2 separate regions of the Homo sapiens genome follow, and region 2 is linked to region 1. A link means that fine-mapping ties the variant in region 1 to the plasma level of a protein whose gene starts in the linked region. Region 1 holds a variant in brackets. A gene starts in the other region. All regions are shown on their reverse strands.

Region 1 (15,698 bases):
AAAGAGACACACGAGCTTTTGTATTGTTGGATAGTTTTTACCACATGCATATATTATCTTTTTAAATTGTTTGAGGTGTGTATGTGTGTGAGTGTGAGCGTGCGTGTGTATGTAGATACACAACAAATGGGACCAGGTCTCTTTTCTGATTAAAACCTGCAAAGAGCTCACCGTATTCAGCTCAACTGTCAGTGGCATGAGAATGGGGACCATTTCTATCCTGCTTAGGGAATCAACTAATGGCTGAGCGTGTCTCTGGGATAAATGCCTCAGCCCAGAACACAGCTCACCCTGCATGGCAGAAGTGCACTCCACTCCAACCACCCTCCCACAGCAGGACCTCTGGCACATCACGCTTCCTTCTTGAGTCTCCACGCCGCTGACATGACACTTCCTAGTGCCAGCTCCTTCCAGAGAACTCTCCTGACAGCCCCAGTTCCTACACACCACAGTCTCTCAAAATTCCCATTTTGTTTTGAGCCTATCTCTGTTATAACCCCTCTGCACTGCATTTATAGGGAAGATGGAGTCACATCTTACTTGGGGCACTGATTACAAAATCAGCACATACATGAAAATCAAGTACACTTAAAAGTACCCTTGAATCGGCCAGGCGCGGTGGCTCACGCCTGTAATCCCAGCACTTTGGGAGGCCGAGGTAGGCGGATCAGGAGTTCGAGACCAGCCTGACCAACATGGTGAAACCCTGTCTCTACTAAAAATACAAAAAAATTAGCTGGGCATGGTGGCATATGCCTGTAATCCCAGCTACTTGGGAGGCTGAGGCAGGAGAATCGCTTGAACCCGGGAGGCGGAGACTGCAGTGAGCCGAGATCGCGCCACTGCACTCCAGCCTGGGCGACAGAGCGAGACTCCGTCTCAAAAATAAATAAATAAATAAAAATAAAAAATAAATTAAAAAAAAATTACCCTTGAAAATCTCTTAAATCATCCAGACAGTACTATAGAACAAAGTTCAAGTCCAACCTAGCCCTTTTTTCTTTTGTAATTCCAGCAATGAAATAGTTATTTATTCAGCTGAACACCAGGTGAATTAACTGGTGTGCATTTAGGAGCAATATTGCACAAAATCATGAGTAAAACAAAGAAGAGGAGGACAAAGATCAGAGGAGGAGGAAGTAGGGGGAGGTCTAGAGCCTTTAAACACTGTGTTCATAAAATGACCAAGTTGCTAGGACTGTGGGAGCCACAGAGAAACATGAGGTTCAAATCGTCTGACCCTGGGGCATATGGTGAGATTCTACACTGTACTAATATGTGGATGATATTTTTCTCTCTCTCTTTCTGTTTCTTTTTCATAACGTAAAGTGTCACAACATCACTGTGCAAATAAAGAATAACTAGGGTCTTGAGACTTAGGTTGGTTTAACTTACTGAAGTGCATCGTGTATCTTGAGCCTACCATTTTCACTGTTAATTTTGATCCAGTCATTGTGGGTCAGTAACATTCCTTCTCTCCCCACCAAACCTAGTATCCTTTGGAAATGCTGAAGGTAACTGACCAGCAGGATCAGGAAAGATGCCTGCAGCAGTCAAGCTATCAGCTCGCTTCAGCCTAAAAAAATATAAAATACATCACACAAAAATAAGGATTCAACATGCTTCTGACCATGGTTGAATAATTGCTATTTTATGTTCTTCGTAAAGCTCTAAGAAATGAGAAGCCAAAAATAAACACTGATAGATGGAAAAGGGGCTGAATTCTACTTGGAGAGTCCATTCCTGAGGGACTCATGACTTATGCAGAATCGATACAGCAGAGTGCGTGGAATGCAGGTGGTTACATAGAGACAATCGGTAGTTTCTGATTTATTAAGGTGTTTTTGTTTGTTTGTTTTTGAGATACGGTCTTGCTCTGTGGGCCAGGCTGGAGTGCAGTGGCATAATCTCAGCTCGTTGCAACCTCTGCCTCACGGGTTCAAGCGATTCTTGTGTCTCAGCCTCCAGAATAGCTGGGATTACAGGCACGTGCCACCACACATAGCTAATTTTTGTATTTTTAGTAGAGATGGAGTTTCACCATGTTGGCAGGCTGGTCTCGAACTCCCAACCTCAGGTGATCCGCCTGCCTCAGCCTCCCAAAGTGCTGAGATTACATGCGTGTGCCGCCGTGCCCAGCCTATTAAGCATATTTTTAAATGGCATTTTGACACTAACTTTGCAATCTCATAAATATTCTAAATAAATTTGTCTAATCTAAATTATTCATGAACTAAAATTGTACCCTTGTTTCTGGCTGACTTGCAACACCTTTAAATCGATCTATGTTCTCTCCTTCTGTCAAGTAATAATTCAATTCAACTAATAAATTCACTAAGCACCTATTATTCCCAAATAATTCTGATTTGATTTAAAAAGGCTTTCTTGAAAACAAAAGCATCTCCCATAGAGATTTTGGGCACTTGGCAGGTCCACAAAGAGAAGAAGCCTATGTGTGCGCGCCTGACTCAAGATTCACAGACGCTCTGTGGCTCCCCGGCCAGCAACCAGACTCTTTACTTGAGTGTACAGTAGAGTTTGGTCATTTCTGTGTTTTGGTTTTGTTTTTTTGTTGTTGTTGTTTTGAGACAGTCTCAAAAATATTTGCTGGAGTGCAAATTTATTTACTTTTTGAGATGGAGTCTCACTCTGTCGCCCAGGCTGGAGTGACCGTAATCCCAACAGGCTGAGGCAGGTGGATCACATGAGGTCAGGAGTTTGAGACCAGCCTGGCCAACATGGTGAAACCCCGTCTCTACTAAAAATACAAAAAGTAGCTGGGTATGGTGGTGCATGCCTGTAATGCCAGCTATTCAGGAGGCTGAGGCAGGAGAATTGCTTGAACCTGGGACACAGAGGTTGCAGTAAGCCATGACAGAGCAAGACTCTGCCTCAAAAAAAAAAAAAAAAATAGAATACACACAGGAACTCTTTTTTAAAAGACTGCAAAAATTCAATCACCTAACAGGCAAAGTGACTAGATCAGGAAGTGTCTTGAACTCAAATGTCAATTGAGATCAGGTGAAATTCAATGAACTGGAGGTGAGGATGGTGAAATCATAAGACAGGATGAGCTCTGCACCGAACAGGAGGGGACGCCCATCTGCAGGGTCAGGCCCCCATAGTCCAGTAAGATAAAGAAAGCCACCTGGGGCAGCTGAGCACTAAAACTGTGCCTAATCCAAATAGAAAGGCACTCAGTGTGAAAGACACACGCAGCTCGGTTAGACATGCACACGTATAATATATATTACTACTTATACGTAAATATATAAATTATATGTATACACATATTTATAATGTGTATTTCAAATATGTTTTATAAATATTCTATTTATATCATAAATATTTCAAATATATAATTTATTTCAAAATAGATGGGGCTGGGCATGGTGACTCACAACTATAATCCCAGCACTTTAGGAGGCCAAGACGGGTGAATGGGTTGAGCCCAGGAGTTTGAGACCAGCCCGGGCAACATGGCGAGACCCTGTCTCCACAAAAAATACAAAAAGTAGCCAGGCGTGGTGGTTCACGCCTGTAGTAGTCCCAGCTACTCGGGAAGCTGAGGTGGGAGGATGGCTTTAGCCCTGGAAGACAAGGCTGCAGTGAGTCAAGACGGTGCCACTGCACTCCAGCCTGGACGACCGAGTGAGACCCTGTCAAAGAAAAAAATAAACGAGGCTGGGTGCGGTGGCTCACGCCTGTATTCCCAGCACTCTGGGAGGCCAAGGCGGGCGGATCAACTGAGGTCAGGAGTTCGAGACCAGCCTAATCAACATGGAGAAACCCCGTCTCTACTAAAAATATAAAATTAGCTGGGCGTGGTAGTGCATGCCTATAATCCCAGCTACTCGGGAGGCTGAGGCAGGAGAATCACTTGAACCCGGCAGGCGGTGGTTGCAGTGAGCTAAGATCGTGCCATTGCACTCCAGCCTAGGCAACAGAGCGAGACTCCATCTCAAAAAAAAGAAAGAAAACAAACAAAATAGATCAAAATCATGTTTAGACATGTTGAGTGAAAGAGAATATAATATTAAAGTTGATTTTATCTGTTTCTTTTTGCTATGTTTAATGTGACTACTGGAAAATCTGACAGGACCCATGGGGCTCACATTATGCTTCTAGGCGAGAGTGCAAGGTCAGACCCCACTGGCTCTGGCAGTCGGCACCCAGCTGATCGAGGAGCTACTCACTGCTACAAGGTCACCAATCTACCCAGAGAAGCCAGGCATTTCAACATCTGTGAGAATCTCCCCAATTCCAACCTCCCTAATGGTATTTCTCACTCCTTCAAGATCCACAACACCTGTTAGTCCTCTACATCTTCAGAAGTTCCCGGAGGCCTGCGTTTCCCATTTCCCTTCTCCATACGGACGAGTGACGCTTTTGGGCGGGGTGTTGCCTCTAGTGTCTGTTCCCACACGCTCCTTCCTAATACCTCGACCCTCCCTGGCACTTACTTGAGGAGGACGAGCCCCATCTCCAGATCCAAGGGTGCTCCTGCAGGCTCATGCCAATCAAAACATCCGGCTCTCCACACACCCACCCCTAGACGTTCAATTCTGGGACCTGGGTCGTGTTTTCAGAGACTCAACCTCAGAGGTTCTCCATGGGCCTGACCTGGGATTCAGGGAGACCCAGGAGGGGCTGGCGAGAAGATTCTGCCAGGAGAGGGAAGCAGATGCAGGAGACGGAGATAAGTGGACTCCTGTCCCTGTCCTCTGCTGGAAAACCACCCTGAGGAGGCCCTGCCTCCAGCCTTCTTATGGCAAAAGCCATTACATTCCCTTTATTGTCCAAGACAATTTAGGTTGGGTTTTCAATTCAACTTAGCTTTCAATTCAATTACTCAAGGCTGAAGATCTCTAAGCCACACCACAGTAATAGCTTAGCGCCCTTATTGTTAGTTTATACACAATCCATCGCAGTCTCTCATCCCCTCAATCCTTCCATTATGAGTCCTTTGGCCTCCTCGGAATTCCAGACCATTGACCTCTGCCCCCTCGGACCCACAGTCCCTCCGAGCTTTTCTCCCAGTTCTGGGGAGATTCCATGCTCCGCCATTTCAATTACTTTCTTGTCAACACCTTAACCACTCCCGTCCCCCAGTCTTTCTGTAGTAAGCGTGTGAGCATCTGGAACAACGCCAGCCCTGGAGAGTCTCCAGGTCAGCTTTCTCCATGGCAGCCCCAGGCACTGGCGCCTGCTGGGGGACCCCCGAGGCAGAGGGTAAGTGGAGATCTGTGAGATGGGATCCCAAGTTGCTCACTACTGCGTCGGAACCTCTCATGCATTTTCAGTGACCAAGCGCACCTGCTGTATGCCCAGCACCGCTGGGGCAACGAGGGTTCAGTAAAGAACAAAACATGCACAAATCCCTGCCCTCCAGGTGCCAACTCTCTTTTTTTTCTTTTCCTTTTTTTTTTTTCTGTTTTTTTTTTTTTTTTTTTGAGAAGGAGTTTCACTCTTGTTGCCCAGGCTGGAGTGCAATGGTGCGATCTCGGCTCACTGCAACCTCTGCCTCCCGGGTTCAAGCATTTCTCCTGTGTCAGCCTCCCGAGTACATGCCTGGGATTACAGGCATTCGCCACCACGCCCGGCTAATTTTGTATTTTTAGTAGAGACGGGGTTTCACCATGTTGTTCAGGCTGGTCTCAAACTCCTGACCTCAGGTGATCCGCCCGCCTCGGCCTCCCAAAGTGCTGGGATTACAGGCGTGAGCCACTGCGCCCAAGGGCCAACTTTCTAGAGCAGGGAAAAGGTCAATGAGCCAGAAAATTGCAAATCTCCTCTATGTCAGAGGCAGGTTTTTGCTCGGGAGGAAAACCACCAGCCCCAGGGAGACGGGGAGACAGTGTGTGGTGGAAGGGGCTGCCATTTGAGAAGGGTGGGCAGGGGAGTTCCCGCTAAAGAAGGTGACCTGAAGGTGGCTGGCGCAGTGGCTCATGCCTGTAATCCCAGCACTTTGGGAGGCCGAATTGGGTGGATGACCTGAGGTCAGGAGTTCAAGACCAGCCTGGCCAACAAGGTGAAACCCTGTCTCTACTAAAAATATAAGAATTAGCCAGGTGTGGTGGCGCACGCCTGTAATTTCTGCTACACAGGAGGCTGAGGCAGGAGAATCGCTTGAACCAGGGAAATGGAGGTTGCAATGAGCTAAGATCGTGCCACTATACTCCAGCCTGGGTGACAGAGAGAGACTTGGTCTCAAGAAAAAAAAAAAAAAAAAGCCTGAAGGTGATGAGGCAGCGAACCACGTGGATACTGTGGGGGAAAAGATGAAGAGCTAACAAAGTCCAGCACACAGAAGTAGAGAGCAGAATGGTGGTTCCCAGAGGCTGTTGGGGGGCTTGGTGGGGGGCAGGAGGAGGAATAGCTTGTACAGCATGGTGACCATCATCAATAATAACATACTGTATATTTCAATTGCTTAAAAAAAGATTTTAAATGTTTTCACTACAAAAAATAATAAGTACAATTGCCGGGCGCAGTGCCTCACACCTGTAATCCCAGCACTTTGGGAGACTGAGGCGGGTGGATCACGAGGTCAGGAGATCGAGAGCATCCTGGCTAACATGGTGAAACCAGGTTGCTACTAAAAAATATAAAAAATTAGCCACGCATGGTGGCAGGCACCTGTAGTCCCAGCTACTCGGGAGGTTGAGGCAAGAGAATGGCATGAACCCGGCAGGCAGAGCTTGCAGTGAGCCAAGATCATGCCACTGCACTCCAGCCTGGGCAACAGAGCCAAGACTCTGTCTCAAAAAAAAAAAAAAAAAAGGTACAATCACCCCTGGGAATCTGTGGATAACAAAATCCAAGGATGCTTAAGTCCCAGATATAAAATGGCACAGCATTTGCATATCACCTTCACACATCCTCCTGTATACTTTAAATCATCTCTAGATTACTTATAATACCTAATACAATGGAAATGCTATTCAATAGTTGTTCTGCTGTATTGTTTGGGGTTTTGGGGGGGTTTTTGGTTTTTTGGGTTTTTTTGTTTTGTTTTGTTTTGTTTTCGTGGCAGAGTCTCGCCCTGTCACCCAGGCTGGCGTGCAGTGGTGCGATCTTGGCTCACTGAAACCTCTGTCTCCCAGGTTCAAGCGATTCTCCTGCCTCCGCCTCCCGAGTAGCTGGGATTATAGGCGCATGCCACCACGCCTGGCTAATTTTTGTATTTTTAATAGAGATGGATTTTGCCATGTTGGCCAGGCTGATCTCAAACTCCTGACCTCAGGTGATCTGCCCAATTCGGCCTCCCAAAGTGCTGGGATTACAGGCGTGAGCCACCGGGCCCGGCCTGTGTTGTTTTTTATTTCTATATATTTTTTAACATTTTGATCTGTAGTTGCTTGGAACTGCAGACATGGAACCCACAGATACGGAATACTGACTGTCTTCAAGGTGATAGACATGTTCATTACCGTGATATAATCATTCCACAATGTATTCATAGTCCAAAACATCACATGGTATCCCATAAATATATATAATTACTAGTTGTCAAACTAAAAGTAACAATGTAAATTTTAAAAATAAATTCAAATAAACAAAAAATAACATCAGTGGGTATTATATCAGAATATCAGAAAAGCAGGTGCTATGGGCCTGACGTGGGATGTGCTGGGCTTTGGGAGTTCACAGGGGTCTGGGAAGGTTATGTCACTGAGGGGCCCACAGCGCAGAGGATAGCAGGTCCTGGCAGAAGCCTCGGCGTGTGTTGGATGTGAAGCAGAGAAGAGATGCAATCTGGCTGAGCATTTCACCAGACTCAGCCTGACTGCTGTGTTGAAAGTGAAAAGAGACAAGCTAAGAGGCTTTGGCAATGAACCAGGGAGGGCTGGGGTGGTGACACCTTCCCTCTCCTCCAGCCTCTGAGGTCCTTATCTGTCCTGCTACCAGCAGCTCATGGCCTTGCCTCCTCTACAGAGAAAGTCACAGCTGCAAGACAGGCACACCGTCAAGTGCCCCCCACCATGCCCACCCCTCTGGCACATGCAGGCCTCTGGGCCTCTCCCTGAGGTCCCAGCAGAGGCCACACTCCTTCTCCAGCTCACCCCTCCCCAACAGCTCAGGAGTTAACCACCCCCACAGTCATGCCTCTCCCTGTTTCCTCTTCCCACTCACATTCAGGCAGCATCAAATATGCCCGAGCCCCTTAGAAGGTTTCCCCAGCAACCCAGCATCCTCCCCGAATCAGGCTCTACTCTCTCCTCCCCTGCTCATCGCAAAAGGACTTCTGGAAATGAAAGTGTGGCACACATTCACCGTCTCCATCTCCCATGGCTGCCCACTCCTGGGCTTCCACCTGCCACTACTCCTGCGGAACAAGATCAGACAAGATCTCCACGGACCTTCAGGTGCCAACCCTCACTGCCCCTTTGGCGTCTTGAGCAGATGGGCCTGTTAGCAACATCCAGCCTCGCTAACCAGCCCTTCTGCTTGGGAAATTCCTCTTCTTCGGCTTCCCTAAGTTTTCTGGATTTCCGGGGCCCTCTGCCTTCCCAGCCTGTCTCCTTTCTGATCATGTTATATCCCAGTTTGCCCCACCCCTAGTGCAGGACTAAGCAAACTTCATCCCACACTCAGCTTCTCATCTTCAGCCCGGAAGCCTCTCGGAGTGCCCGTGGGTTGCAACTGCCCTAATTCAACAAAAACTTACAGTGTGTCGTCTGACAGGCACCTCGCAGTCAGCATGTTAAGACTCTCCTGCCCCAGCCGAGCTGGCATCAGCCAGCATTCCACGTGCAGGGACCTGCCCACAGTGCACACAGCGGCACAAGCCAGGCCCCTGGAAGTCCCCCTAGTGCTCTTCTCTCCCCGCTGCCACAGCATCGCAGGGTCCTTCCAGATAGTATTCAGATCTATACACTTTTTTTTTTTTTTTTTTTTTTTTGAGATGGAGTCTTGCTCTGTCGCCCAGGCTGGAGTGCAGTGGCACGATATTGGCTCACTGCAAGTTCCACCTCCCGGGTTCACGCCATTCTCCTACCTCAGCCTCCCGAGTAGCTGGGATTGCAGGTGCCCGCCACCACGTGTGGCTACTTTTTTTGTATTTTTAGTAGAGACGGGGTTTCACTGCGTTAGCCAGTGAAACCCAAAATTATTACTCTAACTTTCCCCTGCCTTCCTGTGTAAAACCTGACCATAAAGAAATTATCCCAGGCCAGGTGCGGTGGCTCACGCCTGTAATCCCAGCACTTTGGAAGGCCGAGGCGAGTGAATCGCCTGAGGTCAGGAGTTCAAGACCAGCCTGACCAACATGGTGAAACCCCGTCTCTATTTACTAAAAAAATACCAAATTAGCTGGGTGCGGTGGCACATGCCTGTAATCCCAGCTACTTGGGAGGCTGAGGCAGGAGAATCACTTGAATCCAGGAGGCAGAGGTTGCAGTGAGCCGAGATCACGCCACTGCACTCCAGCCTGGGCAACAAGAGCAAAACTCCATTTCAAAAAAAAAAATAATAAATTATCCAAACTACCTTGTTTGATTGCAAGTCACAAAGCTCCCATTCCAGAGCGGGCCTGCCTTGTACCAGAAGGAAAGAAGGCTGCACAGAGGGGCGAAGATGAATCCAGACAGACTCGCCTTGCTGGGCCTCCCCAAGCAGTCTATCGGTGTTCGATCAGACCCTTTTCATCCCATCCTATTCCCATGTGGCTGTCCGTACCTTGTTGAACCTAAGCATAAACTGGCCAGTCTCTCGTGTCTCTGGGTCTTCATTCTGAAGGCTCCCATGTCATGTAAAACTATGACCAACACAGGTGTGTGCCGTGTCTCCTATGAGTCTGTCTTTGCCCAGCTGGTTTTCAGTGAACCCTCAGAGGGGGAAAGGGAAGCTCTTCCTTGGACCCTACGCCCTCTGGAACTAGGTCGGCTCTATTCAGAGTCCTCTCTCTGTCATCACCCTACACTTCTCTGTCATAGCACTGATCGTATCACAATCAGACAAATGTTTGGGTAATTACGTGCTTGTGTCTGTCTTCCATGCTAGAATGCTAGACTTGTCTTCCAAGTGACAATGCTTAGCATCGAGCTGATGTGCGCAAGCTGTCTGTGGTTGAGCGGCTGCCTCCTGAGGACAGGGACTGCTGACGCCGGCTCTGTGTGTAGCGCCTACACAGCACTGTACCCATGGGAGACGCTCAAAAAATATCTGCTGAATGAAGATATTAACAACTTTCTTTTTGTGTGATACAGGGTCTCATTCTGTTGCTGCCCAAGCTGGAGTGCAGTGGTGCCATCATGGCTCATCACAGCCTCAACTTCCCTGGGCTCAAGTGATCCTCCTGCCTCAGCCTTCTGAGTAGCTGGGACCACTATGCTCAGCTAATTGGTGTATGTTTTGTAGAGATGGGGTTTCACCATGTAGCCCAGGCTGGTCTCAAACTTCGGAACTCAAGCAATCTGCCTGCCTCAGCCTCCCAACGTGTTGGGATTACAAGAGTGAGCCACAGCGCCCAGCAACAACTTTCAATGGCTATCTTTGTGGTTTTTTTTTTTTTTTTTTTGAGACAGAGTCTCACTCTGTCACCCAGGCTGGACTGCAGTGGCGCAATCTTGGCTCATTGCAGCCTCCACCTCCCAGGCTCAAGCAGTTCTCCTGTGTCAGCCTCCTGAGTAGCTGAGATTACAGGCATGCACCACTATGCCCAGCTAATTTTTGTATTTTTAGTAGAGACAGGGTTTCACCATGTTAGCCAGGCTGGTCTCAAACTCCTGACCTCAAGTGACCTGCCTGCCTCAGCCTCCCAAAATGCTGGGATCAAAGGCGTGAGCCACCGCGGCTGGCCTCAATGGCTATCTTTGGACGTGGAAAAATTAGTAACAAGATCTTCAAAAAACAAACAAAACCAAGGAAGGCAGAAAAAATAAAATAGCCTCCTTGTCTGAACTTCATCTGCATTCACACTTTCCTTTGACTCCTCAAAAGAAAATCTAGAAAACCTGAAAACTTTTCCTCATACTTTTTTTTTCTTCCCAAATGCTTGACACAGAGAATTCAGAATGATGCGGCCAGAAAGTAGCCGGGCCTGGAAGGGAAAGTACTGCCTTGGATGCAAAGGATGTTTGCATTTCTTCCTTCGCTTTCTCTCCTTTCTGGTCCGTGTCCTGTAGTGCTCCGATCTGCCCCCATTATCTAAAATGCTTCCCATTCCGACAAACACACCTTTGC[A/C]CTCTCCGTTCCAGATGGAGAAACACAACAAACACACAGTCACCACCCCGCTGCACCAAGTCCAGCTATGAGTGTGACAACATTTGCCATCATTCTGATGTCAACACACTCCTGGCTGGACTGAACTGCCCCTTGGGCTTCCCTGCTCTGGGCCGAGGAGGACCAAATGCTCTATTTTGTTCTCTTCCCGAGACCATCTTCACGCATTTCCCCAGTACCCTTGGCAGCTCTGCAGACAATACCCTAGGCATGCAACTCAGTTATCTAGTGAATATCTGATATCAAGATGTAGAGCACGGGTCAGAAGGCCTTTCCTGGAAGCAGACAGAGAGGAAATACCTTTGGGTTCGTGGGTCAGAGGGCCTCTGTTCTAACTACTCCATTCTGCCCCTGAGAAGCAAAAGCAGAAATGTGAACAACACGTAAGCGTATAATAGTATAGCTGGGGCCACTACAACTTTATTTACAAAACTGGCAGGGAGGCTGCGTTTCACCCCGGGCAGGCAGCAGTTTGTCGCCCTGGTTTTAGAAGATGATTTCAGTGTTTCCAAGGACTAGCCTCCTGTTTTAGCATAACGGGGGGCACCCTTTGAAACAACTCCACAACTTACTCTCGGCGTGAATATTTTTTACATCCACTCCTTGTGCAGTTTATCCCCCTCCACAGGTGACATGAACTTGGTTCTCTAGGTGTCAGACTCTATTTTTTCACTTACCAGAGCTGCTTTTAATTTTGAACTTCACCGTTAGAAACTGACCTAGACCAATTTCCCCGGTTCCGTGAGGACGGCCTGGCTCTCCTGGCAAATGTTCATTCTCAGGGGATCAGAGGGGGGTGGGGACCCTTCTGACCTCTTCCTTCCAACCTCACCACCAGGTGTGCCCTACAATGAGAGGAACTCTCACTCCAGATTCAGCCACACACACACAAAACGGTCTATTCTGCTGGGCTGCAGAACTCTCTGTGTTCTCCAAGCACCCTGCCCGAAGGATCGAGTCCACACTGGACCATACTGGCAGCCACACTAGCCAATCTAGTTAAGCCAGATGACAGAGGGTTATGGCAGGGATGCAAGACCAAATAGAGCTGGCAACCCCTCAAGGGCTGCCCAGCAGGTGAGGGCTCCCTGACTTCTTGGTCAAAAGCCTGTGTCGTCTTCCCAGTGAACCACATATCTTAGACACTACTAATTTCTTTTTGTTGAGACGGAGTCTCACTCTGTCACCCAGGCTGGAGTGCAGTGGTACAATCTCGGCTCACTGCAACCTCTGCCACCTGGGTTCAAGCGATTCTCCTGCCTCAGCCTCCCGAGTAGCTGGGACTACAGGTGCCAGCCAACACGCCTGGCTAATTTTTGTATTTTCAGTAGAGATGGGGTTTTACCATGTTGGCCAGGCTGGTCTTGAACTCCTGACCTCAGGTGATCTGCCCGCCTCGGCCTCCCAAAGTGTTGGGATTACAGGCGTGAGCCACCGCGCCAGCCTAATTTCTGAAATGCTTTATGCTAATGAACAAATCTTCTGACGTGGGTTGCTAATGTTACATTGCTTAGGAGACATCTCTAGAGTGTAGGTGCCACATTAGGGTATTCAGAATACTCGCTAGCAGCTCACAGGTTATACTTAAAGGAAACTTACACACCCTGAACACTTTATACTGAAGAATATTTAACGTGACACACAGACAATACGACATCAATTCTCAAGTTATTGATCCCCCAGATTTTTTGCCCAAGAAACACATTATTCCATTCTGTCACCTACATCTTCTAAAAAACTACTAGACAGCAGAAGCTTTAGATTTTCCTGTCTTTTTTTCCCAGTATTTTCCCTCTATCATGAAGGAAATCACAGGTTTTTCTCTCCTTCATTCCCCACACTCAACTGCCAAGTCCTGTTCATTTTACTTCTTAAATATGCCAAACCCAAATACATACATGATTTTCAACTACACACAAATCTCATGGCCTTTCATGGTGCAATCCTGTTTTTGGCACAAAACTGAAGGTGTCGCGTGGCCCTGTCTCCCTCTCCAGCCACATCTCCTGACCCCACCTAGAGAAGGGTTCATCAGCAAAGCCCTGTTCACATGTGGAGCAGGGTCACTCTTGGGGAGGGGCTGCCCTGTGCACTACAGGGTGTGGAGTGGCGTCCCACTCAATGCCAGTAGCCCCCAACACTAGTGGTGACAGCGAAGTATGTCTCCAGACCTTGCCCAACGGCCCTGGGGGCAAAATGGCTCCCCCTCCTCGGCACATCCTCTGTGCCCCATGCTCTTCCGGAGGCAGAGTCGCTGATCTACAGGATTCTGTGCTGTGAAGGCTGCGTGACTCTCAGCTCTGGAAGAGATGGTCTCTTCCCATCCCATTGGTTGACGCTCTGCCTAAGACGCCTCCCCCTCCGTTCTCCCACCTTGCTAACTAAGGCCCATTATGCTGATTAATAGCTCACAACTGTTGTTGATGAAAAGAGTCAAACTCTGTAAAATATTAAGAGATTTATTCTGAGCCAAATATGAGTGACCATGGCCTGTGACACAGCCCTCAGGAGGTCCTGAGAACATGTGCCCAAGGAGGTCGAGGTACAGCTTGGTTTTACACATTTTAGGGAGGCATGAGACATCAATCAAATACATTTAAGAAATACATTGGTTTGGTTCAGAAAGGCAGGACAACTCAAAGCATGGGGGTTGCGGGGAGGAAGGGCAGTTCCAAGCTATAGGTCAATTTAAACATTTTCTGGCTGACAATTGGTTGAGGCTTGTCTTAAGACCTGGGATCCATAGAAAGGAAATGTTCAAGTTAAGATAAAAGACTGTGGAGACCAACGTTCCTTTGAAGTCTTACGGTGGCTGCCCTTAGAAACAATAAATGACAAATTTTTCCTCTTCAGATCTTTAAAAGGTGCTAGACTTTTAGTTAATCTCTTCAGGATTGGGAGGGCATGGAAGAAAAAGATCTAGCTATGTTAATGGAGATTTTTTTTTTTTTTTTGAGACTGAGTCCCCCTCTGTTGCCCAGGCTGGAGTGCAATGGTGTGATCTCAGCTCACTGCAACCTCTGCTTCTGGGTTCAAGCAATTCTCCTTCCTCAGCCACCCAAGTAGCTGGGATTACAGGTGTGTGCCACCACGCCCAGCTAATTTTGGTATTTTTAGTAGAGACGGGGTTTCACCATGTTGGCCAGGATGGTCTCCAATGCCTGACCTCAAGTGATCCACCTGCCTTGGCCTCCCAAAGTGTTGTGATTACAGACGTGAGCCACCAGGCCCGGCAGAAATTCTTTACAGATGCAGATTTTCCTCCCACAAAGGATGGCTCTGCAGGGCCATTTCAAGATATGGCACAGAAGCATGTTTTGGGGTTAAATATTTTGATTTTTTTTCTTGTCTCATAATGTTATGCCAGAGTCAGACTGGAAGGTAAGTCACGATATACAGTGTCAAATAAAACCCATCTGATGGGATTTTATGGTTTGTAGGGCATGACTCCCAGACCCCTTAGACAGGAATTTGGGCAAGATAAAAAAATCAGAGCTTAGTCCTCACTATGTTCCAGACACTGCTTTAAAAACGCTGAAAGTGTATTAACTCTTTTAATTCCATTCACAACCCATATTGGCATCCTCATTATGAAAAAGAACACTGAGCCACAAAGCAAACTTGGTCTGGACCTTGCCATTTTTCAACAGGGAATGGGCTTGGAAGGCACGAGAAGGCTTTCCCTGACCTCTGATCTGGGATCGGTCCCCACCTATATGTCCCCAGAGGATTCTGTGCTTCCCAGGCCAATACATTCATGAGGATTTAGCACCCTTACTTATAGATGGGGTGTTGCTTTACAATGACCAACTTGTGCAAGAATAGAACCCCTTCTTTTTTTCTTTAAATTCAGTCTTACCTAATTCTGACCTCCTATTCTGCCAGGCTGATGGGAACTCCAGATTTACGTATTTGGGGAACTCCTTCACCAAGTGTCCAGGGTCAGTTGAAGGTGGTCTCCGGGGTCTTTGGCAGAGATTTTGGAGGAGAACATCCAGTCCTCACTGCTCATTGCTGATTAGATCACAGGGACTCTCAGTCACCAAGGGAACCTCCCTCCCCGCCCGTCCAGGACACCAGCATCATTTCCTCAAGGAGACTAAGCTTTCACAAGGCAGAAGATGTCTTCAAGCAACTTCTGCTTTTTTCTTTTTCTTCCCCCAGCAATCCTTCCTGAGGTGAAGGACAACAAACGCCTGGTCTGAATAAACATCAAAGCCTGAATAGCAGCCTTTATTCTGCTTCTGCACAGCCAGGAAAAGAAAGAACGAAGTGACTAAATGGCCCTCCACTCCAGTTTAGCTGAAGTCAACCTTCTGCATAAACCCTGCCCGCCTCCTTCCCCTTTGTAGCCCCAAGGCCTAGCAAGACAGGCACTTTCAAAAGTGCACCACCAACAGAATGATGGGGGAGTGAATCTCAGGACGGCAGCTAACATAGTTATTTTTTCTATTAATTCACCTCTGAGTTGG
Region 2 (15,698 bases), not on the chromosome of region 1:
TGAATTCAGAGATGGACCTGGGTTCTGAGATTGCAAATAAGATGTATATATATACTCCAATTGAAGCTGACTTAAGCAAAGACAAACTAAATGGAATGTGTTGACAAATGTACCTGGCTGCTTACCTTCCCCCTCAGCTCTGATCTTTCTCTCTGTTGGCCTTGTTTGGCATCTCCTCCAAGGAGGGCAGGATGGCCATCTTTGACTCCTGGCTGTCATCTTAGCATCATCAGTGAAAACACACCTATTTCCTACTAATTCCAATGAAAGCCCTAGAATTGAGCCACACTGGCCTGACTTGGGTCATGTGCCCATCCTGAACCAATGACTGTGGCCAGGAGAATCATATGCTTGTTGGGCAGGCTGGGGTCATTTGTCCAGCTTGGGAGGCACCTGCCTTCCTGCATCATATGGGCTGAGGGAGGGCAGGAGGGGGCTCCTCACAGGAAAATCAGAGCATGTTTAGTGGAAGAAAAAGTAAAGAATACTGGGCAGGCAAAAACCTCAGGTCTCTGCTCCATTTATTATGTGCTGATATTTACTCATCTGAACATTTGCCTTTGTGCAAATGAAAGGGTGCCCCATGAATGGCTTGTGTCAGGTGAATAAACCCAGTCTTCATAAGAATAAAAATATAATGTATCACCTTTTGTAATTTTCCTACAACCTTTGTACACACCACAAGTAGGGGGATTGTATATGACTATTGAATTTGAGTTCAATAAAAGATTTGTACCTCCTGAATTACACTTCCACACACAAGATAGGATACATTAACTTAATTACTGTTGGATTCAATAACATAGGCCATTGCCCTGGGAATTTATTTTGTGTTATACTCAGAGAGAAAAACGGCATCATTTCTAAAGGCAGTCAATTTCCAATTATCCATGCTAATGGAAGAACACAGCATGTGGAGACTCTAAATACAGTTTCTGTTTGGTTTAGGGAGTGGACATGATTTTTTATTTATCTACCTGAGTTATTTGTCTTGCTTGGGCTTAGGAAACATAAAAAAGAGTTTGCATTATCTGGGTCTATACTTTCTTTCTTCTTTTTCCCTTGGTTTACAAAATGTGAAGTGTATTTTATTATTTGGATTAAAAAATTTTCATTTTGAACTAATTTTAGACTTATGTAATAGTTGCACAAATAGTGTAGTTTCCTTATATCCCTCACTCAGCTTAGCTTAATGTTAACATCATATATAACCATAGTACAAAGCCAGAAACTAACACTGGTACGACACTATAAACTACAGACTTTATTTGAATTTCACCCATTTTCTACCAATGCTCCTTTTCTGTTCCATAATCCCACATTTAGTTGTTATTTCACTTTAGTCTCCTCCAATTTTCAACTGTTTCTCAGTTTGTCTTATTTTTTATGATCTTGACACTTTTGAAGAATACTGATCAGTTATTTTGCGGAATGCCTCCAGTTTGGGTTTGTCTGATGTTTTCTCATGCTTGGAATGAGCTATGCATTTTTGGCAGGAACGCCAAGGAAGTATCCTCTGTGAATGGTATCAAGAGGTTCATGATGTCAGCATGTCTTATTATTGGTGATTTTGATGTTCATCCCTTGGTTAAGGTGGTTTCTGCAAGGTTTCTTCACAATAAAGTTACTATCCTTCCTTTTATAATTAACAAATATCTTGGGGGAAATACTTTGAGACCATGCAAATCTTACGTTTCTTCAAACCGTCACCTGCTAATTTTACCATCCATTGATAGATCTTGTCTGCAACAATTACTGTAGTGTTTGCCTAATGATGATTTTCTATTTCCCTTTTTCCTTCTACGTTTATTAATTAGAAGTCTACTGTAAGGAGGAACTGTCCTTTCTTCCCTATTTGTATGTTTATTTATTCTGTAGGTTAAATCCGATACTATCATTATTTTTTTTCCAAAATTTTTCTAGCTCTGACCATTAGGAGCTCCTTCAGCTTGGACTCTATTATTTATTTATTCAATAGACTTTACTTATTTAGAGCAGTTTTAGGTTAACAGCAACATTGAGCAGAAGGCATTGATACTTCCCACCTACTCCCTGGTCCCCCCCACATGCACAGACTCCCCTATTATCGACATCCCCTACCAGAGTGGTACATTTGTTACAATTGATGAATCTACATTGACATCAACTAAAATCCATAGGCATTGTGTTTCAGTGGGTGCAGTACATTCTATGGGTTTAGACAAAGTCTAATGACATGTATCCCTCATTATAGTATCATACAAAGTAGTTTCTCTGCCCTAAAATGCTCTGTGCTCTGCTTATTCTTACCTCTCCACCCCCTATTTCCTGGACATCACTGATCTGTTTACTGTTTCTGTAGATTTGCCTTTTCCAGGGTATCATATAGTTGAAATGTCGTGCAGTCTGTAGCCTTGTTTCAGCCTGGCTTCTTTTGCTTAGTAATATGCGTTTAAGCTTCCTCCATGTCTCTTCACAGCTTGATAGTTCATTGCTTTTCAGCACTGAATAATATTCCATTGTTTGGACATACCACAGTTTATTTATCTAGACCTTATTCTTTTGACAAATCCACATCCTTTGTGAGCATTTTCTGACTTTCTATCACCACAAAGTGTTCCAGCTTTATCTCATATTTTTCCTGCTCTAGCACTGAAATCAAGCACTTTTCAAGGAACCCTAGTTCTTTTAATTGAATAGTGCTTAGAATAGAACAGTGCTTTGAAATCAAGACCTAGGCACTAGGTATGCTCGTAGATACTGGGTTGCATTTGTTCTAGACCCTCTCCGTAGAGCTAGGAAATATATGTATTTTACTAATCTGTACATATATACCATCTATATTTCTTGCACCATGGTTTGATGAAAGGAGTGGCCATGGTTGCAGAGATAAAAACTATGTATGGTCCCAACAATATGGGTTTCCTTACCCTAAGGCTAATTTAGCTACTGCCACAGCCCAATGTTCCACCTGCCAGAAACCGACCATTGCTGAGCCTTTGTGTATCAGACCTCTTCCAACTTGGAATGGGCAATGTTTCATTCTGACTGGGATTGATACATATTCAGGGGTCAGATTTGCCTTTCCTGCCCACAGTGTCTCAGCCAGCACCACTATGCTAGGGACCAAATCAGTGTCTGATCTACTGGCATGGGATACCACATTACATTGCCTTTTATGGCAAAGAAGTTATGGCAGAGAGAACATTCATGAGATCCACTGATCCTTTTAAAAACTATACCATACGGAAGTTGCTGGCCTGATTAAGGATTGGAACAGCCTGTTGAAGGTATAGCTGAGGTACTAGTTTAGAGATGATATTCTGCAAGGATGGGGCAACATCCTTTAGGCTGAATAGACACCTTAAACCAATAGACATTAGATGGTGCTGTGTCCCTAGTAGACAGAATACATGAGTCAGAGAATCAAGGGGTGGAAGAAAGAGCACCCCTGCTCATCCTCATACCCCTCCACCCAGGCAGCCAACAGCCAATGCCATGGGGAAACAAAAGACCAGCCCCTCAAAGGGCACCAAGAAGGGGTATGACTCTGTGTTCCTGAGCTCCCTGGGGACACGATGGAAGTGGTCTCTAGCAGAGACCACACCTTTGCTTGGCTTTCTTCCCCTGAACTTGTCTGCTTCCCTTGCTCTCCTTCTTGGAGTGTGCTCTCAATCAATCACTTCCTCAAGAATCCTTGTTTCAGGCTCTGCTTCTAGAGAGATGGTGCTGATTGGGAATTTTTATTCAATTAATGTCATACTTCCCATCTCTTAAATATTCTCAAATAATAAGATTTCTAATGGCCACACGATGTTCTATTATGTGAATATAGTTTATTGAACCAATCTGATTCTAGACATTTAGGTTATTCCTGAGCTTTCACTATTATAAATAATTCAGAGAAGAACATAATTGTTGCTAAGCCTTTGTAAACATTCTTAATTATCTTTTCAGGTTAAATTCTTATGGGTGAAGTTACAAAGTCACTGGTCACAAACATTTTGTGGCTCTTAACATAAATATCAAGAACCTTGGCCTCTAAGAGGACTGTACCAGTTTATGATCCCACAAAGAAAGCAACTTTTTTTCATTTTTGCCAACCCAGAGAATAATGATTTTTAGAAGTATCTGCAAATTTTATCGGTGACTTATTATCTTAATGTGTTTTACTTTGGTTACTTGGCAGTTTGGTTATTTGTAGTTCTTTGGTGAATTGTGTATTCAAGACTTTTGCCCATTTTCCCATTGATGTATTTTCCTCATTAATTTCTTTTTCTTTTCTTTTCTTTTTTTTTTTGAGACAGAGTCTCACTCTGTCACCCAGGCTGGAGTGCAGTGGTGTGATCTCGGCTCACTACAATTGAGTTCAAGCAGCTCTCCTGCCTCAGCCTCCCTAGTAGCTGAGACTACAGGCATGGGCTAATTTTTTGTATTTTTAGTAGAGACAAAGTTTCACCATGTTGGCCAGGCTGCTCTTGAACTCCTGAACTTATGCGATCTGCACACCTCAGCCTCCCAAAGTGTTGGGATTACAGGCGTGAGCCTGGCCCCTCATTAATTTCTTTGAGCCTTTTTTTTTTTTTTTTTTTTTTGTAATTGATTGAAAGTACAGGGAACTTTCAATTGTAGATGTAAAGGGCACCATACAGCTTTTCACAGAGTGCAACGACAGGGTAGAAGTACCATGGCCCTGTCCCTTCATTTCACAAGAGAAGAAACTGAGTCCTAGGAACATCCAGGAAAATCTGGCATTGATTGGGCCAGGCCTCATGACTCCCAACAGAGTTCTTGCTCCACCATCTTTGTCAGAAGTGAGGGCTAAGAGCTGACAGAATAACAGACACTACTGCCAATCCAACATTAATCATGCACTTAGTATATGTCATATTTGGTGCAAAGCACTCTGTGTATATGATCTAATCTTCTCAAAACCCTGATAGATATGTGCTATTATGACTACCACTTTACAAAAAAGGAAACTGAGGCACAGAGAGGGTGAAAAACGTGTAGAGGTCATCTATGCTAGGAACCCTTTGGAAGAAGGAAAAGAACATTCCCCACGGTTGTGCCCTAACATAGTCACAGCTTGTCCCTGGTGCGGTTCTTTTCCTCTTCCCTTCCCCGCTGCTAAAGTCATTCTGTGCACCCAATTCTGTAACTTGCTTTTCTTTCACTCTATGTTTCATGTTGCTTCGTGGATTTTATAGCCATCATTTTAATGCCCTGCATAATATTCCTTTGTTGAGCAGATGCTAAATTCTTGAATTTAGTGTACTCCCACTGAAGATGTTGGGAGAATTTCTGGGGACCCCTGCTGTCTCCCCTGCAGTTCCCCCTGGCTTGATAATTCCCTTTTCACTTCATGCCTTGAGTGAAATGATACAAATTTAACTTGCAAATTGCCTAAGGATGTCTTTCATAGTTGGAGGCATCTGTAAATTATATGCAAATATGTGTGCAGCCAGGGGAATTCTTCCAATGCTTTGACCTTAAGAAAAATCTAGTGGAGATGAGTGTGTAAATGGTTAAAATTTCTTCTCTGAGCCTCAGTTTCTCAGTCTATAAAGGGGTGAACTAACCTGCTTGTGTGAGCTGCATGTGTGAGACTTTAAGGAGAAATTACATGGTATAGAATTATGAAATCCTATCAATTTAAGGGGTACAAGTACAGTTTTATTTCATGTATATATTGTATAGTGGTGAAGTCTGGGCTTTTAGTGTAACCGTCACCTGATTAGTGTACCTTGTACCCATTAAATAATTTCTCATCCCTTATGCTCCTCCCACTCTTCTAAATCTCCAGTGGCTATTGTTCCACACTCTATGTCCATGTGTACACACTGTTTATCTCCCAACCGTAAGTGAGAATATGCAGTTCTTGACTTTCTGCTTTTGAGTTGTTTCACTTAAGATCATGGCCTCCATTTCCATCCATGTTGCTTCAAAAGACATGATTTTATTCCTTTTTATGGCTGAAGAGTATTCCATTGTGTGTGTGTGTTTGCACCACATTTTCTTTAATCGTCTATTGGTGAACACTCAGGTTGATTCCATATCTTTGCTTGAACAGACATTTCTCTAAAGAAGGCCTACAAATGTCCAACAGATGTATGAAAAGATGCTCAATATCACCAGTCATCAGGGAAATGCAAATGAAAATCACAAGGAGATATCATCCCACACCTGTCAAAATGGCTATTATAAAAAAACAAAAAAGACAAGCGTTGGTGAGGATGAGGAGAAACTGAAACCCTTGTACACTGTTGGTGGGAATGCAAAATGGTGTAGCCGCTATGGAAAACAGCATAGAGATTTCTCAGAAAACTAAAAATAGAACTACCATATGATCCAGCATTCCACTTCTGAGTGTTTATCCAAGAGAACTGAAATCAGGATCTCAAAGAGATATTAGCCTTCCTGTGTTCATTGAAGCTTTATTCACAAGATGTGGAAATAACCTAATGTTCATGGATAAGTAAATAGATAAAGAAAATGTGACATATATATATATATATATATATATATATATATATATATATATATATATGATGGAATATTATCCAGCCTTTAAAAAGAAGGAAATCCTGCAATATGTGACAATATGGATGAACCTGGGGGATACTGAGCTAGTCACAGAAGTACAAACACTGCATGATTCTTATATGAGCTATCTAAAATAGTCAAACTCATGGAAGCAGAGAGTGGAATGGCAGTTGCAAAGGGGCAGGTGGAAGGGGGAGTTGGAAGTTGCTAATCAACAGGTATAACATTTCAATTATGCAAGATGAATAAATTCTAGAAATCTGTACAACATTGGGCCCATAAATGACCATATTTAAGCATTTTACACTTAAAAATCTGTTAAGGGAGTACATTTCACGTTAAAAGTTTTTAGCATAAATAATAATAATAATGATAATAATACTGATGCGTTTCTAGTATTGTTCATTTCTGGGTGCTTGAGCATGTTCAATTTAGTGTGCAGAACCTTGCTGACTCATCTGTATTCCATTTTGGAAGTTTTGTTAGGAAATACTCACAGGAAGTATGGTTTTGGTTCATGCTAGCTCAGTGGGTGGTTTTGGAACTCCTTTTGAGTTCCAGTAAGATGGGGCTTCTCAGGGGGTGCTGCAAACGAGTTGGGTTCATTTCGTTGTGTTTCCCGGGCCCTTCTGGATGTGTGGGACTCCTCCAGCTCCAGTTTTGCTCTCTGGTTTCCATCCCAGCTTGAAAGCTGTTTGGAGCGCTTGTTCCTCAAGGAACTCCATTTTGCTCCCAGTCCTGGGATCCTCGGTGAGCTGGAGCCTCTTTCGGGACCCTCGTCCTGTGGGCTCACTCTCTGTTGACTCAGCAGTCACCATCTTCTATTCCCCAAGGCATGAGCCCGCATTGCACCCACACTGTGCAGTCCTTCTAAAGGCAGCCATCTGGCACTGACCCTGAGAGGAAAGGAGGGCCCTGCCAGCCTATCCCAGAGCTTTGTAGCCTGCGTGGAGCCTGATGCCAACATGCGGTTGCATTTCTCTTTGTAAATGAATACAAAGCTAATAAGAAAAGGAAAAAGAACCTGGATTGCCTTTCTGAGCAAGGAAAAGAAAATTGTCTTCAAGTCTCAGAGGGCTTGTTATTCAGCCAACAGAGATCAGGTGTGTACATATTTTCCATCAGACTATGAAGTGCGTAAGTCTTGGACATCAAGGGAAATGCTGTGGGTTCCATGGGCTGTGGCAGCGCTGTGCCTGAGTGCTGTAGTGGGTCATAGTGGGAGCTTTGACGTCAAGTAGTCCCTGGCTCTTCTTCCATTTACTCAATGAGTGATCTGGGATAAAGGATCTCTCAACTCTGGGACTCAGGCTTTTGTTTTTAACATGAGGCTTCTCACAGCGCCTATTTCATGGGGGATTATCAGGAGGATTACATCAGATAACACACAGGACTGTGGTGTCTGACATGCTGTAAGTGCTCATGCATGTCAGCCCATGTTGTTGGTAGTTTTGTGGCCCTCATGATTTTTTCCTCTGTAGTCAGGACTTGGGCATCCTCTTCTCTGTTTCTGAGTAGTTGCTTTGCCATTAGAGTTTTCTGGTGTTTACTTTCATATTGTTGTGAGGTATTCATTTGCTTAAAATCATTTCCTCCTAAAGTGGGTTGTCCATACACCATGGCTCTGCATAGGGGGAAGAAAGCAAGAAGGCATGTGTGTGTGTGTGTGTGTGTGTGTGTGTGTGTGTGTTGGTGGGGGTGGGGGCGGGTGGGGGAAACGGCTGTGAGGGACGCAGGGAGATGGAGTGAGCCTGGCTCTACTGAATACATATAATCAATGGGTGAAATCGACGTGTTCGCAAAAGTTACAGGCCCTGCTGGGTGAGCTGCTTTCAGTGGTGTCAAGAAATGCATCTGTTTCATTACTCCTCTTCTTGGGATAAGGAATTATTCCAACATCACCTTCAAACCACAGCAGAAGAGCCTGGGAGTGGGAAGGTCATGTCATTCCCTCACAGTCCCTACTTTCTATCCAAGGGGTGTTTGGGGGTTAAAATATTCAACATAAACCTTGGAGCTTCTTTGCTTCAAAGAAGGGAAGGAAACAAATGCAATTGAGCTATGAGTATTTATTAATTCACTCAATATTTATTGTGCACTTATGTCCCTTTTTTCAGCACTATGGGTTCAGCAGCAAATGAGACAGACACAAACCCGGACCCTGCCTTTGTGCCGCTGAATGTCAGGTGGGAGAATGACATCAAGCAATTGTGCAGTTGTGATGAGTGCAAAGTTGTGAGGGTCAGGGGTGACTTTTCTGAGGACTTGCAGAAGCTGTGGCCAGAAGGGTGAGTGGGGCTGTCTCCAGGAGAAGAGGGGACAGGGAGGAGAGCGTCTCAGCAGGAGCGAGCCCTGCAGGAAAGGGCCTGAGTGGAGGGGGCAGGATGCTGGTGACCAGAGCAGGAGGGGCAGGAACATCCAGGACAGAAGGATCTAGAGGCCCCTGGGCTTAGCAGGATGTACCAGGAGTCATGGTGCAGTGCCTGGCCTTTGTCCTGAGGGCACAGGAAGGGAAGTAAGTAGAGAAAAGTGATCATATTTACCTTCAGAGAGGACCACTTTGGCTCCTGTGTGGATAATGAATAACCATGGGTGAACTGAGAGAGGGAGACCCTTATAAGGGCTCTGTGGTGTGCAGGTGACATGTGGTGGGAAGTAGATTCTAGAAGTACAGCAGTGGGGAGTGGGTGGAGCTGAAAGGAGTGAAAGAGAGATTGACAGATGAGTGAGTCACTGAAAGTGGGGGCTGAGAAGGAGGGCAGAGTGACACTAGGGTCTTGGTGGGGTGGGAAGTGGTTTCCCCAACATGGGGACACAGGAAAGAGGGTAGGTTTAACAGGGGGGATGCAGCTCAGATGTTCAATTTTGGACACACTGAATTCAGAGAGTGCCAATGAGACAGCACAATGGAGATGCCATGTAGCAGGTAGATATATGAGTTTGCAGCTAAAAATAAATCTGTGCTGATGATAAGGTATTATAGGCACCTCTTTTATTGGATGGAACCTAGTGGGTGATTTGATTCTTGCCAGCATAGCATCATGAACAGGGGTCAGGGAGTACACCTAGAACTTTCTGCAAGTAGGTCCATCTTTCTTTCTCTCTCTGTGACCTTCACCAATTTATCTGCCTTTCTGGGCTCCCCTAGCCTCAGCATAAAATGGTGATAGTTATGTCTACTTCTGACTACCAGTAGCACAGGTTTGAGGATCCATTAAACTGAAAATAAAACATGTGGGGCTCGTAGAAATAAGAACTATGTTAAAACAAGGAGTTATTATAGTTGTGCATAAGCCAATGAAAAGCAGAAATACAGCCCCAAGGCTCAGTATTGATTTTGGTCCTGGGTGCTTCCTGCGGCTGAATAAATCTGCCATTTCTCCCCTCGAGTGCTGGCTGAGCTGATGGCAGGTCTCCAGCTCCCAGCCTCCTTGCCCCTGCTCCAAGGTTATGTCCTTCCTTGGCTCAGGCCAGATCCAGCATGGCCACACCTGCCCCTGCTCCTTTGGTCACCCTTCCCATGCAGGGGATGGTTATGGGGAAGATTCCGGTTGTGAAATTGGAGCATGGCTAGCAGCAGATGCTCTCTGATTAAACTGGGGACAGGTCCCCGAGGAAAGTGGAACTTGGATCTGCAGAACAAGGAATTTAAGGAGGACAAAGGAAATGGCCCTAGACAGGGCTTTCATACTTCAGGATGCATCAAGGGTTATGGAATTTGCTTCATTCATTGAACCACTGGATAAATATTTGTTGAGGGCCCACTGAATGCCAGGTTCTGAGATTAGCTCAGGGATACAGGAGTGAAAAAGACAGTGTTTGCCCTCTTGGAATTAATATTCAAATTGAGGAAGAGAGAGATAATAAACAAAGGAGTAAAACACTCTTGAACGACTGAGCAACCAGATACAACAAGAGAGAATGCTGATGTGGCTGGGAGGGAAGTGTCTATCTTAGAAGGTGTGGTCAGGGAAGGCTTCAATGAGGTGGTGACATTTGAGTGAGACCTGACAGCTAAGAAGGAGTTGCCCTGTGAAAAGCAGGGAAAGGAACACTGTGGGCAGAGAGCCTGGCCAGAAGAGAGGACCTGTGGGGCCCAAGCTTGCTAAGTTTGCAGAACCATGAGAAGAAATCTGGCTAGAACCTAGGGAATGAAGGGCAGAGGTAAGGGACCAGATGGTGCAAAGCTTTGTGAGTCATGGGAGGGAATGTGAATTTTTGTTTTACTGTCATGGCAAGCTATTGAAAGGTTTTATTTAAGGGAGTGATTTCTATTTTAAAAAGATTGCTACATATATACAATGGAGTACTATTCAGCCATAAAAAGAATGAGATCCTGTCATTTGCAACAACATGGATGGAACTGGATATCATTATGTCAAGTGAAATAAGCCAGGTATGGAAAGACGAATGTCACATGTTCTTATTTATTTGTGGGATCTAAAAATCAAAATAATTGAACTTATGGACATAGAGAGTAGAAGGATGGTTACCAGAGGCCAGGAAGGGTAGTGGAGGGTTGCAGGGAGGGTGGGGATGGTTAATGGGTCCAAAAAAAACAGAAAGAATGAATAAGACATAGTATTTGATAGCACAACAGGGTGACTATAGTCAATAAGTTAATTGTACATTTAAAAATAACTAAAAGAATGTAATTGGATGGTTTGTAACACAAAGGATAAACACTTGAGGGGATGGATATCCAATTCTACGTGATGTGATCATTATGCATTGCATGCCTGTATCAAACATCTCATGTACCCCCTAAATACAAACACCCACTATGTACCCACAAAAATTTTAAAAAGAGAAGGCTCTCTTAAAAAAAGATTGCTCTCACCTGAGTGGATAATGGGTTGCAAGGGAAAGGAAAGAAGGAAACCAGCCAAGAAGCACCGTCGTTCTTCACGTGAGAAGTGATGGTCTTGTGGACTCAGGAGTATCTGTGGAAGTGGGGTGAAGTGGGTGGCTCCAGGGGGTGTTCGAAAGTGGGATGGACCCCCTTTGCTGATGGATGGGAGGTGAGGGGCGAGGAGATGGATGAACTGGAGATGACTTGTGGGGTTCTGACTTAAGCAGCCATGTGGATGCGGATACATTCACTCTAACAGGGATGAAAGGAGAACACAGAGGCATGGAGGACATCCAGACTTCTGTTTTGGCCTGGTCACAGATCTGACGTGCCCGTGGGGCATTGAGGAGATGTAAAGTATGAAGCTGGAGGTACAGTCAGAAGTCATTGGAATTTCTGGGCTGGAAATGTACCTGGAGGATCTCAGCATAGGACTGGACTTGGGCACCTGGGGAAAGGGTTTTGGGGGAGAGAAGAGGGATAGGTCTGAGCCCTAAGAAGCACTGGAATGTCAGCAGGAATGATGGGGGGAGCAGGAAAGCCAGGAGGGTTGGAGCCACGGGAGCCAAAAGAAACTGCTCAGAGGCCACACTGGGGAGGATCGAGGGTACCCACTGGATCTGGTGACTTGGAGGAGGCTGCTGATGGTGACAAGTCATTTCAGTTAGTGAGGATGAAAGGCAGATTGGAGTGGGTTGAAGAATGAGTTGGAGGTGAGGAGGCAAAAGTGACATTTAGGGACAACTCCTTGGAGAGATCTTGCTGTCACACTGGGCAGATAAATGGGGAAGTGCTGCTTACTTGGGTTTCTATGAACATAAGAAACAGTCTCTTCATCATTTCTAAACCTCTCTCCCACTCTGATGCACCCACCCACAGCATTCCATGATAAAATAAACCGTGGATGATGTGCAGTCCCCAACATAGTAGCTGTGACTCCATTCCTTTTTCTCCCTTTTGAGAAAGTTTCTAGGAATGCAAATCAGGCAGAGTAATGTTGGGAAAACCACAGATCTGCTGACTTCCACACATTCAACTATTATATGTAACCAAATTATTTGTAGCGCAACTTATTATTGATCACACCATACATTATTGTTGGCATGCTGGCTGAGATGTGTTGTTGTTCCAGACATGGTTGGGTGGCATTCATTCATTAAATCATTCATTCATTTATCAAATTTTTTTGAGCACTAACAATGTGTCAACTCTGGGCACTGGGAGAAGTGGTGAACAAGACAAAGATAGCCTCTGCCCTCAGGAGCTCTAGCCAGGTGGGGAGGCAGACATAGAGTAAGTGATATCAGTTGAGCTTACAGCCAGAGAAGCACTGTGTTCTCAAAGACAGCATCACTGCAGGTGCTGGCCTGGTCCACAGGTGTAGCAAGAGTCTCTGAAGAAGTGAGGATGAATAAGCAGAGAGCAGAATTAATGAGACTTGTGCTGGGACTGGGTATGGACAGCAGCCCAGGCAGAAGTGAATACCCAGGAGTGGAGGGAGCCCATTTCCACTGGGGTCAGGGCCAGCCCGTCCAGAAGGTCAGAGGAGGAGAGAGTGGGGTGAGAGGCGGGGTCCAGATGTGCGGGGCCTGGGGGCTCCAGCCAGGAGATTGGTCTTTATCAGGAAAGCATTGTGAAGAATTTTGTGTTGAGGGGAGAGGGGTGATGGGATGGTCAGACTTGTTCTGAAAGAGCGCTCAGGTGTCTGGGGAATGGGGTGTAGTTGTACAGAGAAAGGTGACAGGCCAGTATCACTTGTATACAGGCAGGGGAAGACATTAAGTCCCTTCCAGCCCTATTTCACCAAACATTGCTGGTATTTGGAAACGGGGTGGGGGATGGGGCAGGACCAGACTTCTGCTTCTCAGTGTTCTGTCCCTGTAGCCTGATCTGTTTTTCCTCTCTCCCCTCCCTCCCATCTAGGGGAACTCAACAGGTTAGTGCTGGGGCCGGTTCTCAAGGGGCAGGACAGTGGTAAGCATGGCATAGGGCATGGGAGTGCAGAGATGCAGGTGGGTGCATGACTTGGGATGGGCAGTGCAGATATTCACTTATCCAGGGAATGGCAGGACGGTGGTTATCAAACTTTGCCATGCATAAAAAACGCCTCGGGAGCTCATTAAAAGTGCAGACTTGGAAGCTTTCCTAAGGAATGCTGACTCAGCAAGTGGGGCGGTGGGGCAGGAATCATTTTTAGGAAGTTCGCTTCTCTCTCCACCCAGGTGATTTTGATCTAGATAACCCGACGGCCTTCCTTTTGAGAATGCCTCCATGCTGGCCTGCGTCTTGGCCTCATATCCTCAGTCCCCTCTTCTGTCTCGCACCAGCCTGGGCCTGAAAGCTGATTTTAGCCCTGCATTAAGATGTGAATGACCCAGGACATAGGCGTGGGCAAGGACTTCATGTCCAAAACACCAAAAGCAATGGCAACAAAAGCCAAAATTGACAAATGGGATCTAATTAAACTAAAGAGCTTCTGCACAGCAAAAGAAACTACCATCAGAGTGAACAGGCAACCTACAACATGGGAGAAAATTTTCGCAACCTACTCATCTGACAAAGGGCTAATATCCAGAATCTACAATGAACTCAAACAAATTTACAAGAAAAAAACAAACAACCCCATCAAAAAGTGGGCGAAGGACATGAACAGACACTTCTCAAAAGAAGACATTTATGCAGCCAAAAAATACATGAAAAAATGCTCATCATCACTGGCCATCAGAGCAATGCAAATCAAAACCACTATGAGATATCATCTCACACCAGTTAGAATGGCAATCATTAAAAAGTCAGGAAACAACAGGTGCTGGAGAGGATGTGGAGAAATAGGAACACTTTTACACTGTTGGTGGGACTGTAAACTAGTTCAACCATTGTGGAAGTCAGTGTGGCGATTCCTCAGGGATCTAGAACTAGAAATACCATTTGACCCAGCCATCCCATTACTGGGTATATACCCAAAGGACTATAAATCATGCTGCTATAAAGCCACATGCACACGTATGTGTATTGCGGCATTATTCACAATAGCAAAGACTTGGAACCAACCCAAATGTCCATCAATGATAGACTGGATTAAGAAAATGTGGCACATATACACCATGGAATACTATGCAGCCATAAAAAAGGATGAGTTCATGTCCTTTGTAGGGACGTGGATGAAATTGGAAACCATCATTCTCAGTAAACTATCGCAAGAACAAAAAACCAAACACCGCATATTCTCACTCATAGGTGGGAATTGAACAATGAGATCACATGGACACAGGAAGGGGAATATCACACTCTGGGGACTGTGGTGGGGTGGGGGGAGTGGGGAGGGATAGCATTGGGAGATATACCTAATGCTAGATGACGAGTTAGTGGGTGCAGCGCACCAGCATGGCACATGTATACATATGTAACTAACCTGCACAATGTGCACATGTACCCTAAAACTTAAAGTATAATTAAAAAAAAAAATAGAAGTAAATTAAAAAAAAAAAAAAAAAAAAAAAAGATGTGAATGACCACGTTCCGGGCTGGGGCGGCCGGGCTGTCGGGCAGGCAGCGCGCGGCCACCAGGGGGCGCCAGAGCCTTGGCTCGCGCGCTCGGCCTCCTCCGCCCGCGGACGCCGCGCCCGAGCCAGCGAGCGAGCAGAGCACATCGCTGCGGGCTCACAAAGCGGCCAGACGCTCGGCGGCGGCGTGTGGCAGGAGCGCAGGGGCGCGAGCCGGCGATCAGCCTTCCCGGCGACCGTGCCGCGGGAGCTCGAGCAACTCGGACTAGGGGACCCGGGCCGGCCCCCAAGGTACGTGCCCAGAGGAACCCCGCGCCCCAACTTGGAGTAGTTGGGACCTCCCCGCGGCCGCCTAGGGGGCTGGCAGGGTCAGGGCCTGGGGTTACCTCCGCGCGCCTTTCTTACCCCCGAGACCTCAGGGCGCTCAAGGGAGACCTTTCCCTTAGCTGTCGCCGGGGACCCCCAGCTGCTGGCAGCCCCCACCCCGCTTGCCGGAGCTCGGGTGCTGCTGGAGCCCTGTTCTCCCCTCTCCTGCCCCAAAGCCGTGTGCACCGCACCGTCTGTGGGAGTGCGGCGTGCGGACCCGGGCTCCCCGCTTCTGGGGAGGGGTACCAAGCCCCTGATAGGAGGGCGGCATCTGTGGGGCACTCGGAGAATAGACGAGACGGGTCCCCTGTAGTTGGACGGCAGCCTCGGATTCGTGACGCAGCCTCCTCGTTCGTAGATGAGTCCCCCATTCGTGAGAGGGGTCCCTGGGTCTAGAGGCGCGACAGGCGCCCCAGGTGCGCGAGCGCTGCCCGTGCCCGCCGCGGGGTCCC

Which allele goes with the higher level. Positions count from the first base shown, and alleles are read on the strand shown. Strength reflects both the effect of a copy and how common the allele is.
In carriers of allele C in region 1, the plasma level of the protein whose gene starts at base 15,024 in region 2 tends to be lower than with A alone (weak association).

What was found. PIP is the posterior inclusion probability: the model's chance that the variant is causal. The UK Biobank Pharma Proteomics Project read protein levels with antibody pairs (Olink). The fine-mapping took linkage between variants from a reference panel, not from the people measured, so its PIPs are less certain.
Region 2: SPOCK1 starts here. The variant in region 1 is fine-mapped to the plasma level of the SPOCK1 protein (UK Biobank, PIP above 0.99).

The regions. Positions count from the first base shown.
Region 1 is chr12:128,857,153-128,872,850 of GRCh38, reverse strand. The region is part of intron 1 of GLT1D1 (glycosyltransferase 1 domain containing 1); the gene reads right to left. LOC124903084 (a long non-coding RNA gene) reads left to right here and starts at 1,136. Exons shown (of 3, transcript XR_007063603.1): 1 at 1,136-1,253; 2 at 4,100-4,245; 3 at 5,113-5,253. The variant A/C (reference allele first, on the strand shown) is at 11,188.
Region 2 is chr5:137,498,652-137,514,349 of GRCh38, reverse strand. SPOCK1 (SPARC (osteonectin), cwcv and kazal like domains proteoglycan 1) reads left to right here and starts at 15,024. Exons shown (of 11, transcript NM_004598.4): 1 at 15,024-15,171. RefSeq lists a silencer at 14,854-15,073.